Homo sapiens: one gene and its partner. The protein of the gene in region 2 interacts with the protein of the main gene of each other region in a biochemical or structural test. Each region holds a gene or a part of one and is shown on either strand. Other genes may lie near its edges.

What was found. The genes of interacting proteins can lie anywhere in the genome.
Region 1: the proteins of ARNT (region 2) and KPNA3 form a complex in vitro, tested with the Homo sapiens proteins (one study listed by BioGRID).

The regions. Positions count from the first base shown.
Region 1 is NC_000013.11:49,702,249-49,705,836, forward strand, and holds part of KPNA3 (importin subunit alpha-4), read right to left. Parts: intron 3,536-3,588; coding exon 3,373-3,535; intron 233-3,372; coding exon 138-232; intron 1-137. UniProt on the Homo sapiens protein: Functions in nuclear protein import as an adapter protein for nuclear receptor KPNB1. Binds specifically and directly to substrates containing either a simple or bipartite NLS motif.
Region 2 is NC_000001.11:150,831,596-150,835,252, forward strand, and holds part of ARNT (aryl hydrocarbon receptor nuclear translocator), read right to left. Parts: intron 3,046-3,657; coding exon 2,943-3,045; intron 805-2,942; coding exon 739-804; intron 309-738; coding exon 223-308; intron 1-222. UniProt on the Homo sapiens protein: Required for activity of the AHR. Upon ligand binding, AHR translocates into the nucleus, where it heterodimerizes with ARNT and induces transcription by binding to xenobiotic response elements (XRE).

The DNA of each region.
Region 1 (3,588 bases), on a different chromosome or scaffold from region 2:
TGACTGATGGAATGTCTAATAGAAATACAGTACAAACTTATGTCATCCTAATAATAAAAGGAAAACTCTTAGTAAATTTACATCATGTATAGGTTTTCATTTACATGAAGATACACGCTATTTTAATATCTACTTACATCATCACCAGAGAAATACTGATCTATGATTTCAAATGCTAATTTATATATGTCTTCATTTTCATGTTGCTGTAAAACTTCAATTTTCTCCAAACCTGGTAAAAATAAAATAATCAAAATAACTGGTTAATTGATAAGGAGATACTAATCAAAACCACACTCATTTTAATCATGGAGAAATCCTAAGGAACTCAGAACACACTGCTCCCCCATCTAAGATAGTGGTTTGTCTAAAAAACAGACAAAACACGGGGCTGCTTCTAGTTGGAGGACCAGAATCCCACTAATTTTTTCCTTCTTAGAAGCCCTTGAGGTACCCGGATCCCTGAGGCAGACAGTCTAAAAAAACACCCAAACAATCCATTTGACAGAGGGAAGCTGTGGCATAAATATGTAAAGAGACTTATTTCAAGTTATATGGCAAGTTTGTGACAGTACTAGAACCAACTCCCCCACAGTGCTTTAATATAAATTTACTAATCTATTTTTTTTTTGAGACGGAGTCTCGCTCTGTCACCCAGGCTGGAGTGCAGAGTGCAGAGGTGTGATCTCGGCTCACTGCAAGCTCCGCCTCCTGGGTTCATGCCATTCTCCCGCCTAAGCCTCCCAAGTAGCTGGGACTACAGGCGCCCGCCACCACACCCGGCTAAGTTTTTCTATTTTTAGCAGAGACGGGGTTTCACTATGTTAGCCAGGATGATCTTGATCTCCTGACCTCGTGATCTGCCCACCTCGGCCTCCCAAAGTGCTGGGATTACAGGCGTGAGCCACTGCGCCTGGGCATTTTTTCTTTCTTTCTTTTTTTTTTTTTTTTTTGAGACGGAGTCTCACTCTGTAGCCAGGGCTGGAGTGCAGTGGCACGTCTCGGCTCACTGCAACCTCCACCTCCTGGGTTCAAGTGTCTCCTGCCTCAGCCTCCCAAGTAGCTGGGATTACAGGTGCCCACCACTATGCCCAGCTAATTTTTTGTGTTTTTAGTAGAGACGGGGTTTCACCATGTTGGCCAGGCTGGTCTCGAACTCCTGACCTCGTGATTCGCCCGCCTTGGCCTCCCAAAGTGCTGGGATTACAGGAGTGAGCCACTGCACCCGGCCAATCTTATTAATCTTACTGCCTCATAAAGTAATTTGTATCTTTCTCTTTGTTTTCCAAATGTTATTACCTTTATATAACCACAAAATGAGTTTTTAGAACCTTATAATTGGTATAAAAGATATAAAGATTTAAATTTTGAAAAACTTTCTTTAAAAAATGAATAGAGGTCTTATGTCCTATAGCCACAATGAACCTGGGAGAAAATATTTCCAGAACAGATATCATAGAATGCCTTCATTTATATTTCCAATATATTTACTCCACACATCATATACATGTTTATCAATTTCACACCTTAATATTCTTCCTTGAAATGTCTTTTTGAAGGTTATTTTAAAATAGTTGCAATTTTTTCTTATATACTAATAAACCAAAAGAATGGGGGAAATCGTTGCCAAAGTGCTTTATACAATTATAAAATATTAATATGTATCCTATTACTCCTATAGACAAAAGTAACTATATTGATAAAAAGCTGAAGAGTAGTAATTCTCTAAGTTGCTCAAACTTACTGTGTTATGAACCTGACTACAATTTTTAATTATCTTAATAGTAAGAAGATCTGGATTTTAACTTTGCTTCTATCACAACCTACTTCTGTCACCTTGGACAAGACTCCTTAAAATCTGTGGGATAATTTCTTCTCAAGAAACCCTCCCGGCTGGGTGCAGTGGCTCACGCCTGTAATCCCAGCACTTTGGGAAGCCGAGGCGGGCAGATCACCCGAGGTTGGGAGTTTAAGACCAGCCTGACCAACACGGAGAAACCCTGCCTCTACTAAAAATACAAAAATTTAGCCGGGCGTGGTGGTGCATGCCTATAATCCCAGCTACTAGGGAGGCTGAGGTAGGAGAATTGCTTAAACCCGGGAGACGGAGGTTGCGGTGAGCCATTACACTCCAGCCTGGGCAACAAGAGCGAAACTCTGTCTCAAAAAAAAAATAAATAAATAAAAAATAAATAAATAAATAAATAAATAAATAAATAAATAAATAAATAAATAGAAAGAAAGAAATCCTCCCAGTCTGAATATTCTACGGTACTACTGCATTTGTTTTCTCTTAAAATAAATAAATAAATAAACAATAGAATATTCATATAAAGTAGTCAATGAAATGTAAAATCTAAAACATGACATTATGATAAACTAATTTAAGGTTTAAACATGTTAGTACATATTGAACATGTACATTTAAAAACAGAATTTTAACATATGTTTCACATGTCATTAAAGAATAATACAGTATGTCAAATCACAATTATTTCTCATTAAAATTTCAAAGTAACTGCCACAGTAATAACTTCAGGATGTAGTTGTGGAAATCCTAAGAATCATTACAAGATTGAAACAAAATATCTAGGTGACTCAGAAGTCAGTAACCTTTTCCAACTATATGAAATAATATTTCCTAAAGTGGGGTCCACAGAATTACATGGTAATAACACACAAAAAAAGTGTTTCATTGTTAAGAAGTTTAAGAAATGCTGGATTAAATAAAGCTTTAAAATTTATGTAGTGTTGTAAGGGCTCTTAAATTTGCTGTCATGCACTGTGACTTCAAGAGAAGTATTAGTGTTTCCTAAAATGCAATGTCAGGCCAGGCGCAGTGGCTCATGCCTGTAATCCCAGCACTTTGGGACGCTGAGGCAGGTGGATCACTTGAGGTCAGGAGTTCGAGACCAGCCTGGCCAACATGGTGAAACCTCGTCTCTATTAAAAACACAAAAATCCACTGGGTGTGGTGGTGTGCGCCTGTAATCCCGGCTACCTGGGAGGCTGAGGTGTGAGAATTGCTTGAACTCGGGAGGCAGAGGTTGCAATGAGCTGAGATTGTGCCACTGCACTCCAGCCTGGGCGACAGAGCAAGATTCTGTCTCCAAAAAAAAAAAAAAAAGCTATGTTGTCAATCTCTAGAAGGCTATACAGTGACTTTCACAACCTGATTTTGCAAAGTATGGACTACTGTCTTCTGGAAAATCCTCTTGGAATGCAAATATAGTGAATAAAGAAAAGCAACATACTGTGATCATTTAAAAACAACGTATCCTAGTAATTTTCTGTCTAGTAAGTTGACTTTAAAGAACTTATGTTTCAGAGTTCCAGTGCTCAAATACTCTTCTTCCATCAATCCACTCTTACCTCCACATTCCTCTATTATTTCAGCTATTGTGCTTGCTTCATCACCGGCCATTATCAGAATGTTTTTTAGACCATCTAGAACCACCTGAACCACTTGAGAATCTTTCACTGACAGTAAATTACAGAACGGTGGTATTACATTCTGCTGTACAAGGTACTCAACCTAGACAACAAAAGAGAAGAAATATTTTTATTTATATAATTATCTATTTCCCA
Region 2 (3,657 bases):
AGCCAATACTGAATCATTTTCCAGCCTGAGTTATCTATCTCCTCAACTGGAATAAAAGCTCAATAATGGAAGGGAAGGATTGTACATTTTCTTTTCCTATTTTCTTTCATCTTACACAAAAGTACATTTCATATACCAGGTATATAATAAATATTAGCTTTCATGGACTCTGTGAGGAACCAACTGTACCAAGGGGAAATATTTACTATTTCACTTTCTTACCTGCTGGGGGCCAGGCCTTGATGTAGCCTGTGCAGTGGACCACCACGAAGTGAGGTTCCCCATCCTTTACAGAGCCAAGTCCATTCCTAGAAGAGTTACAGGAGTTTGAAAAAAAAAAAAAAAATCTACCCGTAAAACTCAAAGGGCAATGCTGCCTTAGTACTTTTAAGTTTATGCTCTTAGGAGTTTAGAAAACAGGATAATCATCTTTCCCACCCAAAAATGACCGCCACATTTTTACCCTTGCCAAAGTAAAGTAACCAAAAGGTATGCAGTAGGAGGAAAGTAGGTAAAATAGCATAGCGACTTCCTTAAACAGGATTTTCAAGAGAAGTTTTAGAAGTTTAGGAAAATATTGCCAGAAAAAAAGTAAGTGGGAGGTAAGGGATGTTAAGTGGGAGGTAAGGGATGCAAGTGAGAGCTGCTGAAGGAACGACTACAGTAAGACAGGTAAAAATGTGATGATCTCTGCAGGTATTTGGCCATCCCTTTGGTTTTCACCACTTAGGATCTCACCTGCATCTGTTCCTCACAAAGCTCAGCCTATTCACAGAAACTGGGTCCACAGAGCTACTGCCACACCTGTTTCAAGGAATAAAGAGATTAAAAGCAATCAGACTGCCCTATCAAAGAACTTTCCACAGTAATAGCAGAATAACATGCTCTGGATACAACCAGACATAGAAAATTGGTAATGCTACTAATAATGAAGGATAAAGATAGGTCAAGTTTAGTATTTCTAAAACTTTTAGAATTTGAAGTCAAAATGTTCCATATGTTCTTCATATGCAAACATTCTCAACATCAAGAGTTGGCAAGCTTTTTCTGTAAAGGACCAGATAGTACATATTTTCAGCTTTGCGGGCCAGAAAGTCTGTTGCAACTAGTCAACTCTAGCATTATAGCATGAAAATAGCCATAGATAATATGTAAAAATATGGGCATGGCTATGTTCCAATAAAACTTTATTTACAAATAAAGGGCTGTGGTTTGCTTACTCCTGCTCTACATTAACCACAACTTAATGTAATTGCTACAGTTCATTATTATCTTGCTCTTGCCTATGTCTTTGCATTAGCCATGTCCACATATTGGGATACTCCTGCCAATGCTACTTTCCCTCTCCCTATCCTTTAAAACAAAAATAAAACTTACATAGGGTTAATATGTGTCATGCTCTGTTCTAAATATCTTTACATATATTAATTCATCTAATCTTCATAACAACTTTATAAAGTCAGTATTAACATTATCGCCAATGTGAGATGATGAAATCAAAGCACAATGTAGTCATGTAATCATCCAAGGTTTCAGAAGATAGCATCAAAGCTAGAATTCAAATCCATAGAATATGGATTAAAACAAAATCCAGCAGTCTGGGTCTAGAAGCTACTCTAAATTACACGCTGGGTGCAGTGGTTCAGGCCTGTAATCTCAGCACTTTGGGAGGCTGACGCAGGCGAATCACTTGAGGTCAAGAGTTTGAGGCCAGCCTGGCCAACATGGTGAAACACTGTTTTACTAAAAATACAAAAATTAGCCAGCTGTGGTGGCAATCCAGCTACTCAGGAAACTGAGGCATGAGAATCGCTTGAACCCAGGAGGTAGAGGTTGTAATGACCCAAGATCATGCCACTGCACTCCAGCCTGGGCAACAGAGCAAGACTCTGTCTCAAAAAAATAAATAAATAAAAATAAAAATAAATCACTAAACCACATAATGTTCAATTTTGTGCCTCTCCAAGCAAACCTTTAATATCCTACCCATAATTTCTAGCAACTATCCTCTCAGTACAATGTAGTCAATTTCCATTATATAGCCTGAACTTTGTGACCCTGAGATGCCTTTTGTACCTGTATAGAAAGGACCACCATATTTTCTACAGAATCCTAAAACGTACAGTATATAATTTATAAACACTAAACACCTACTGAAAGACATAGGAAGTCTCAAATTTCTAACCAAAAAAAAAAAGAAGAAATGGTCTGAGTAAATGGATATTGCCTTGTGTTGTAACAGGGAAAAAGTAGAGGTTTTGTAGTCAGACTACTATGAATTAAAACAAAATCCTGTATCAAACAGTATGTAACAGTGGGAAATTCATTTCTTTTTCTTTTTCTTTTTTTTTTTTTTGAGACAGAGTTTCACTCTTTTTGCCTAGGCTGGAGTGTAATGGCACAATCTCGGCTCACTGCAACCTCCACCTCCTGGGTTCAAGCAATTGTCCTGCCTCAGCCTCCAAGTGGCTGGGATTATGGGCGCACGCCACCACGCCCGTCTAATTTTGTTGTTGTTTTTTTTTAGTAGAGATGGGGTTTCACCATGTTGGCCAGGCTGGTCTCAAACTCCTGACCTCAGGTGATCCACTCGCCTCAGCCTCCTAAAGTGCTGGGATTACAGCCTTGAGCCACTGCACCTGGCCAAGTTCATTTCTTTATATCTGTTTTTCCATCTGCAAAATGGTAACCATCAATCTTACACTACAAGGCAATTGTGAGGATAAAATAAGATGACAGATATAAAGCACCTATCATAGTGTCTGGCAAGTTCAGAAACGTTAGTTCCCTTTCCAAATACTTTATTCTGTGTTACAATCCATCTGGGTATGGAGAGTTAAATTTAATCCACTGGAGCTAATCCAACTTAACTCTGACAGAAATAAAACTCTCAGCTCTTGATCCTTCCTATACCAAATCACAATCCTCAGCTTGACACTCACCTCATTCGGCAAATAAACGATCTCCTTGAGCCCATACACATTCTCATGGAAGACTGCTGACCTTCCTTTTTCACTGTTCCAGTCTTTAGATCCAGGATACGCCCTGAAGGAAGATGTGAAGAGCAGTCTGGAGTGCATTTTTGTGTGTGGGGAAGAGGGGGAGAGATACTGAAGGCAAAGATAAGTAAGCATCCTATTCATGCCCTTAATCTCCTTGCTTATAACAGAACTGACCAAGCAGGAGATGAATTTTTTTTCAAGCCTAAAATACTTCAATTATCATCAATGAATCTCACTCTTAAGTTCAAAGGCAGCATTGAAAATAACATTGTGCAAGGAAAAGTAGGAGTGGAAAGTAGTAGTAGAAAACAAGAGGCAAGGCTATATTCTCATAGCTGATTATCTGTATACACATACAGACATACATACAGAGTAAATGTCATTGGTTGAAAAACAAGTACTTTTCTGTAGTCCCAGCTAATCAGGAGGCTGAGGCAGGAGGACTGCTTGAGGGCAGGAGTTTGAGGCTGTAGTGTGCTATGACTGTGCCTGTGAAGAGTCACTGTACTCTAGCCTCAGCAATAAAGCAAGACCTTGTCTCAAAAAAAAAAAAAAGAATAAAAAGAAAAAATTTTAAAAAGAAAAAAACCAAGTAATTTTATATGTTATAGAAACATATAGATCTGTTTGTCTTCTTTATTATACAGAAACGAAG